Regions from separate parts of the Homo sapiens genome. Here region 2 is linked to region 1. The links come from fine-mapping of genetic effects on gene expression. A gene starts in region 1. The other region holds a variant in brackets. All regions are shown on one strand. Distances are from middle to middle. Region 1 holds the start of FOXP2 (forkhead box P2). Region 2 overlaps FOXP2 (forkhead box P2).

Evidence for each region. PIP is the estimated chance that this variant, and not a neighbour inherited with it, causes the effect.
Region 2: its variant is the best candidate, but not a certain one, in a credible set for the expression of FOXP2 in subcutaneous fat (GTEx, PIP 0.53).

Annotation. Positions count from the first base shown.
Region 1 is chr7:114,412,741-114,417,144 of GRCh38, reverse strand. It overlaps FOXP2 (forkhead box P2), which reads right to left and starts at 2,330. Exons shown (of 17, transcript NM_014491.4): 1 at 1,785-2,330. RefSeq lists an enhancer at 1-353.
Region 2 is chr7:114,532,426-114,536,829 of GRCh38, reverse strand. FOXP2 (forkhead box P2) reads right to left here. Exons shown (of 17, transcript NM_014491.4): 3 at 2,124-2,213. Among named protein-coding and RNA genes, the nearest start is that of MIR3666, 120 kb to the left of the region's middle. The variant A/TA (reference allele first, on the strand shown) is at 2,524.

The DNA of each region.
Region 1 (4,404 bases):
ATAGGAGTATTAAATTATGAAGAAGCAGCATTCCACATTCCAGCACAAATCCCTATGAAATGTTAATAATATGCCCACAATAGCAGAATACCATGCCTTACTTGCCTTCATGAATAATAAAGTAAACAAATTATCTATCCACCTTTTACAAAGATTATTAGTATTTCAATGCATATAATTTTAGTGATCTTTAAAATAAAACGTGAGCATATTCTGTGAAATTTTACATGGGTTTAAAAAAAAAAGTCAAACAAGTTGTTTTCTAATAGAGCACCATATTTCTAAACAGATACCTGTAACCCTTCAATACCGTAATCTCTGTTAGGTATAGGACTCTGCTTTCCGTGAAAACCAACAGGCTAATCATTAAACCTCTCCACATATTCTCAAGTATACTTTGTTTCCAAACTTGTACAGCAGAAGGGCTGACTGTAAAGACAAATAAATATGCCTTTAAAAGGGCATTATGAATCAACTATAGATAATCAGATTTAAAGTCAGAACAGTTCAAAGATAAGGAACAATCGAAAATAAGAATGAAAGTTTTGTATTACACACACTATTGACGGTGAAAGTGATTCAAGATCTATTCTAAGCACACATTAAATAGAGTGCTTTTTTTTTTTTTTTTTTTGGTCGCGGAGGCTAGTAAACAAAAACCTGTCACTTAGGCTACAGTAAAGTGAAAATACATGGATGAAATTTAGGCGTTATTACCTGAAGGTGAAGAATGTCAAACTGGTCAGAGGAAAAAGCTGTTGGTGTTGCAGTAAGAACTTGCTCATGTCACTGGGAAAAGTGCAGCTATCTGTGTCATCCTCCGACTGTGTTTATACTGGCTTGCATCATAAACAAGCTCATCTTCCCTCATAGCTTGTTCATGCATACTTAAATCACCTTGCCCATTAAAAATGTCTCTCTTGACAATTATTCTATCATTTTCAGTTGTCATCAGGCAATTACTGTAGCCCTATGATGGGCCCAATAGGATCCCAGGTTCTGAGACGCTTTTTTGAAGCAGACAGAATGAAAAGTGCAGAAATGGTAATTTATAGCCCAGCCAAGCTACCTTTTTAACTGACACGAGTATTAAACTATCACACCTATTTGAAGAAATATAATGCAGTTTCTAAAAATTACTCATCAATTCACAATGTGTATTCCTGGAAATATATATATTTCTTCACAATCAGTGATTTGAAAAAGACCCACCAACCAATTTTTAATAAAATCATGAACATGCATATAAAACTACAAAGATCATCTGAGCCCTGACTCCTTTCATGTTTGTACAAGCTTAGCAAAAAGAGTTTCCCCTTTAGCACAAAATAAACATCTGCTCTACACAGCACGGCACAGAGAGGCACCCAAACGTGTGGTCAAACTCCCTTTTCAAAAACTTGCGCCCTGACACATACTGGGGCATTTACTAAAAGCAAGATGACATGGTTATTATCAAACCATGAAAGCAGGAACCCTGTCTTTATTCTTCTCAAGATCTTGCAGATTTTTTTTTAATACAAAAGAGGCCTTCTTTATTTGCTGTCTTTACTAGTGATAGCTTAAATCTACATTACGCTACTGACAGATCAAAAACAGTTCCTGTGTCTGGTCTCCCGGCTTTTCCCTCGCAAACAGATACAATGCTCTAGTTCATTTCAATGAGCTACAGTCTCAGAAAAAAAAAAAAGTAAAGCAATTGCCAAATCTACCAGTAAAGCAATCGTAAAATCCCACCCCTCTCTAAACTCTTACAGATATTCTCTTAGCAAAAAGTAACGTACCTTCTCTGGAAATGTTAGAGCAAACTTCCCGGTTTCAACTTCATAGGAGTTTGTTAAAGAGATGAAAAATTAGGAAGATTCAAAAAAGCCAGCACAGAAAACAGTATAAAAAGAAGGGAAAACTCAGAAGCTAGCTCACTGTCAAAGCCACCATCAGACAACTATTTACAGCAGTATTTACACTACTGTGAGTACACCTCTGCCCGATCACGTCCCAGACTGATGGCATTTTGTGCTGGTAATTAAAACAAATCAAGCAGCTCTGTGATTGTTTTGGCGTCCGTGGACAATCGTACACAAAATCAGCATTTAATCACTAGGGTATGTCTTTGGTGTGCAACGTGAGGGGTGACAAAGGTTCAAGACTGAGCCAGCATGCTTACCATAATCTTTCTAAAGTAAGTGCTTCATTTTTGTGTGTGTGTATGTGTGTGTGTGCATGTGTGTGAGTGTGTGAGTGTGTGTGTGAGAGAGAGAAAGACAGAGAGAGAGAGACAAAAGCACCAGTTTGAGTCTCTCAAGTCCTCGGTTAGCTTTCATGTCTGTGATAAATACACTTCTTGCTTCCCTTATTAGGACAAGCTTACCATTATACACTGCACTTTTGGTAAAGCTCCAGTGCTCTGCAATTTACAGCCAAAGGAAGTAGTTTACAAAAATAAGCAAACCCAAGACAAGCATTTCACAGCCACAACATCAGATAAGCCAGAAAGAAATAATCTTCAATGCACATCAAAACCACTTCACAATGACAATTTGTCCAAGCAGATGTTAATCAAGCTTCAGCCTTTGAACACTAGATACCATCAATTACTAACCTTAATTGAAATCACAGTTCTCCAGCTTCTCTGCCAGCATATTCAGAGGATGATGTATTAAGATATTTACAGTAAAGTAAACAATGCATAGTTGCAATGAAATGGAAAATTTTCAGCTAATGGTGTTTGTCAATCCTTTGTCAATTTTTCTGCCTGCCACAGATGTTTTCTTAGCTGTTTCACAAAAACAGGAATCAACTAGCAGAGAAGAAAGACTTTCTCTCCCCCAGGAAAAGAGTACAAAGCCAAGTCTGTACACAGCAGATGCAAAAGAAAGTCCATCTGCTACCAGCTCACAACACCACATGGAGTTTTAAGATTTTATACTGTAGGTAGCCTAGCAGGGTTTGTGTGGACCCCATAAGCATGAAAGGAAGAGAAATGGTAGCCTCAAACTGTTAAGGTAAAAACTACAGCTACAGAGACAGAATGAACAACTTACTGAAGCTGGTAAATCAAAGGTTTATTTGCAATAATTTTCCTCCTATTGCAAGAACTGACTAGTTTTTTAGGAGTTACACCCAAGACAGGAACGACACTGTCTTAGTTTTATGGCCTTTAACTCTGGGCAAGACAACTTGAACTCACAGGTCTCAGCTGAACACCATCGTGAGTGGACAAGCTTTAACAGCACCCCACCTACAACTTAATGTGAGACAAAACAACAGTTACTGAACAAAGCACTTCGAAGAGATCTTTAACCGGCCACCACTCCTGCCACTGACTTATCTTGTTTTAGTTTCTTCAGATGAGTAACATCTGCCACTACTTTTGTTGCACATTTAAATACTAAACAGAAGAGGGAAAGATGTATAAAGAAGTACTTAAAATAACTGCTTCTAATAGCCTTTAATACAGACATTTTGGGTAAGTAATTACAGCAAATTTCACATTTCACCTTCAACCCCTGAGGCTGCACTATTTCTCCACCTCCCCTGAAAGGAACTGAAAGCACTTATTCTTTAGCTCTGTGATACAAAACCGTTTAATATTCTGTTAGCAATTTTTTTCATTTTATAGTTAAATAATTCACTCATTAAAAGTATGTTTATATTGGTTTTTTTTTAAACCAAAATTTAAACACAGGAAACTCATGCAATAGGCAAGTACCTGTAAACATTTATTTTTAACATTTTTTTATCAGATTGTGAACAAAGCAAATGAAATTATATGAGCAATAGTAACTTATATTTTAAGGGAATTAAACAACTGCGAATATTCAAGTATCAGGAATATATTTTTTAAGTCTGCTTTGTTCATTTAAAAATTTTTTCTCCCAACTCTTCACAGTTTACAGGGCTTCCACATTTCAAAGAAACTGTGAATAATGTATACAATGACACAAATGACTTTATGTACTCCAGAGGAAATAAAGGATAGTTTCCATTATCACATCAGTCAAATAACATTTTCACACAAATCTGTTTACATTCACTAAAATGATAACATAATGCTCTTCAGCAATAGTGCCTTATCAACCTAGAAAGCAGTGTAGTAGCAATTAACATAAAATTTAAAAGCTTACACTCATTTTTACCAACAAAAGTTAAAAAAATTGATACCTCTGACATTCAAAAATATTGTTATAAATATGTAAATTCATTTTTTTAAGTAAAATATTTGCATCTCCTTTCCTCCTCCAGGCTTTTGAACTTCTGAGGTCAACAAGGACAAACAATACCACTAGTGTCTCTTTGCAAAAAGCTGGGTTTGCTGTCTGCAAGCAATGGTATCATTTCCATAGCAACCCCCTAACTATTAATTTTCAATTAAAGCAGACACAAAGCGGACAGCCTCAGGCT
Region 2 (4,404 bases), 120 kb before region 1:
TCATTCATAAAACTCAACTTCTCGTTCCTATGACATTTTGGCATGAGATCTCATTAAAATTACAAACTAATACTGAAATGCTAGTTTTACAGTCTAAACAATGGAGATAAATTCAGATTAATATGCATCACAAAATGAAAAACAAGTGACACAATGAAAGTCTTTGTAGTCATGGTCAGCAACTGCAATTGTTAAAAGGTATTTATAATAGTTTTAATCATTCTTTTATGCTAAAACAACAAGACTGGACACTTCTGCTCAAAATTTTACTTCTGCATTGATAAACAAACAACAATTTCTTATTTTAGAGCCATTAATATTCCCACATTCTATTGTGGGTATTTTGTAAGGAAAAGTACGTATATTTTAGTCCAAGTATCAAATCTTGCCTTTCAATGCAACAACAACAACAAAAAAAAAAAAAAAAAAAAAGAAAAGAAAAACTAAAGCCCAGCCATTCTTTCCAGAGATACCCTGGTAACCAGCAATATAGAAACTTCTACTGGACTTAGCTTTGGAGAGGAAGAAGCAACTGCGAATTCCTCTATTTTGTCAAGAAATATGATAAAATAGAATTAGGAAAATATATAGTGTTTTTTAGACACTCAAAACAGTAACTTCATTCCTATCTTTTGCTTATGTTGCCAGCATCTAATTCTCCTTTTCTATTCCAACAAGAAAGCAAAATTCCCACTCTGAAGCCATAGTGAGGATAAACATTTCATTTGCTATCTTCTGTGACTTCTATGTAAATTTTTCTCTGTCATGTAAATGCATGAAGAGACTCTCATGCAATCAGATAACTCCATGGAAATACTACACCTACGCTCCCATTATAAATTGGGGAAGAATATGATGGTGAGGAAAGTGACACAGAATTATTCATTAGTTAAAACAAAGGAATGTGAAGTTGCTTTTAAAAGAGAAAAAAAAACTGAAAAGAATCTTAAACTCAGGGTGATTAAATAAAACTTTCATTTCCAGTCATGGCAGACATCTGTACTCTGTTGAAACATCCCTTATCCCCAAGTCCCTCTTCTTCTCATCCACCCTCCACAGATGACTTTGTTCCCAGGAAAATCGGTTCTTATCTCAAATTTGTTTAGGGACCATACATTTTATCCAGTTTTTAGGTAATAACTAATTTTTGGATTGTACAGATCAGTAGCTTATAATTCTCTCTTATACAAACTAAGCTCCAGAAGGCCATCATGTAAGACTTAGTTACTAACATCTGTAAGTACACCTGAAAATAAAAACAGACAGCTGGGCCATAAAAAATTGTTTTGTTTTGTTTTTTTTGTTAAAGCCACAAGAGATGTTAAAAAACTAAATTTGCCTTATTAGACATGTATATAACACATGATTCAGGAAAAAGCATTACTTATCTTTCAACAGAGCTGGTGAACACTTTGAGAGATGTTTTATGCAATTCCAGAATTTACCTTCCAAACAGTCAAAAAATATACCTTAAAAATGTTTCCCCCCCCACCAAGAAAATGTCCCACATATTTTGGTTAAGAAGACTGCATAAAACAAGGATTATATTATGTAACAAAAGTTACTTTAAAAGACATACATACTATCAGTTTCACAGGACAAACATAGTGAGTAAGGACAACAAACTCCAGAATGTGTTTTTATAACTGTAGCACCAGCAATAACTCCTTGGCAAACTCAAACAGTTTTTTTGGCAATCCTCGAAGTTTTCTGCATTTGTCACTTGGATACAACTGCGGAAGGGTTGTCTAAGACTTCTTTGTTTCCTTCCACACCATTTTACTATAACTTTGCTTTTAAGAAAAAAATTTTACATTTCAACCTATGTATGAATAAAATCCCACAAGGGGGTTTTATGCAAAATTCTTTATGCCTATGTACACCAAATATGGTTCCTATGTATTTTTTGCAAGGAGTTACCTTGTAAACTTTTAAAATGTATGCCAATAGAATATTATTTTTTTCTCCTTTAAGAAGATAAAATGAATTCTCTTTATGAATTAAAATTACCTACATATGCAAATGTAATAATTTCCTGTATATATACAAGTGGGTCTGCACATCTGTTATCATTATGAACATCTTTTAAAATAAGACCCCAAGGACAGGAGTGCTTTACTAACCTGCAGTGGTCTCTGTTTATCACTGCTCTTAGGAGATTTCAATCCACTTGTTTGCTGCTGTAAAAGAAGTTGTCTTGCTGCCTGGAGAGCCTAGAAGTAAAAATGAAACCTTATCTAAATATTTTGTTGAAAGTTAAGTTATCAATTATCTCTTGGTTAATAGTAAAAGGCTTCAATGTACAAGAACTCCCATATTCCTTTCTAGAGAGAATCATTGTTGTTTATCTTCTAATATGAAAAAAATTGCCAAACACACATATATAACTTTTTACTCCAAATCACAGAGAAACATGCAATCCTACAGGAAATAAAGTTAATTTGTTTAAAGTGCTTAAAGAGGATAAAAATCATAAACTGCATCAATAACCTCATTTCCACAAGGAACTTGTCTTTGAGTGTT[A/TA]ACTAAAATGCCCACTCCCTTTTAAATTATCATTCAATTTGCATTTTCATATTACAATTTTGAGGCAAAAGCAGTAGACTTCAAGTGTTACCGGAAGCTGTAATTAAATTTGACAAATCAACATCAGATTATCTTGAAAGTGAATTAATAAGGATTTTCACTAAAGATTAAAAACACTTTTTTTGTACTTACAATTCAAGGGGAAACCTCTCCTTTGACAAAATAAAGTGCAGTTTTAATGCCAAATAAAATTGAGTGGTTTTCATTTGCATTCTTAGCAAAATCAGAGAACAAAGAAATTACCACTCAACCAATCAGGTTTGTTTCTATGTGTGACAGAATACCAATCAAAATAGAAGATGTTTTCATTTATTTTTATGTTTTCTTTCCCACTTAGGAAAATAAAACTTAACATAAGAAATTAATGTAAGCATTTCATTTACTGGAGGAGGAACAGTTCAGTAAATGTACTATATAAACTTAACATATAAAAGCTAGTGCCATAGACCAAAATGCATAGTAAATTCTTCTAAAGGTAGGAGTATACACTAATTAACAAAAACTTTTAAGAGTCTCTTAAAAAATTCATTTTCTCTCTCAACAACTGAGTTCAATGAACACTAATGATGAAATTTTTCAACACATAAAACTAAACTAAATCATTGGCCTAATATGTTATTTACTGTTTTTGAATACAAGATAAATTTTTCACAATGAGAAAACATTATTGGATTAATATTCCTATATAATAATTAAGAATTTCAGCTGATAAAAAGTACAATTTTGATTGTAATCAATGATCTGGTTTTTAAGAGAGTTTCTAGTATCCATGACAACAGTTGCTTTGACAAGATGTGCATATGGCATTACACTGCCAGCTGGTGTGAACAATGTTTGAACTACTGCATTGAGATGCTGAGCAAACAGAAAAAGTTGCCACGTCTTAACCCTCAGGGAAGGCAGTCATCCCCTGATCAATTATGAAAAGACAGAGAGGGCTGCTACAGTCTGGCTCCAAGCAAGTTTTCTGAGAAGGCAGGCAGACATAGAAACCAAAGTAAACAAACTGAATGCACTAGCACCATCTCCTAACAACATTGATTTGTCTTCCGATAGCAGGATCTGGCATAGTTTGTAAAGCACACTTTTTACATTTGGAGACACACTCACTCACGATAATCATCTTTGTTGTTGTTTTTTAACTTTTCAAGTAATTACAAATTAACGTAAATATTTCTAAGGATGGCACATTCCAGTGAACTCAGGCTATTTATTATAGAGCTCAGTTTGAAAATACAAACAAAAAAATCTGTAATTACTTTATTATCACAAGGCTCACTATTTGAAACTTTTTATTCAATATTCTAAATAATATATCTTTCCTCTTTTAATTGTAACTTATAAAGTGACTACAAATGATAATTTTCCAAATGGAAATTACAATAGGTGTCCCAGGCTGTGTCTCTGAAATTCTCAAAATAAAAAATGCATTTGATTATTTTTCCAGTTAATGCCTAATTGTTTTCATGTAGTTTTTTTTTCTTTTCGAGTTGATGAGTTTATTTTGTATACCTGTTGCCTTAATTTATATTAAATTATGTAGTTATCTATTTATTATTCTTTAAAAAATTTATTGAACACTGTTTAGGATCTTAGAATCATGAATGACAAGGACTAAAAGCTATCTTGAAAATCATCTAATCTGACCTCCTTATTCTAGCACATAAGAAAAATGAAACGTAGAATAGTCAGTTGCTTTGTTCAAGATCACAAAGCAATTTATGAATGCTTTGTTCAAGGTCTGCTGGCTTCCAGGCCTGAGTGTATTCCAGTGTGCCATACTGTTTCTGTTCTGTCAAAGGAATCATTAGTAGGCAATGA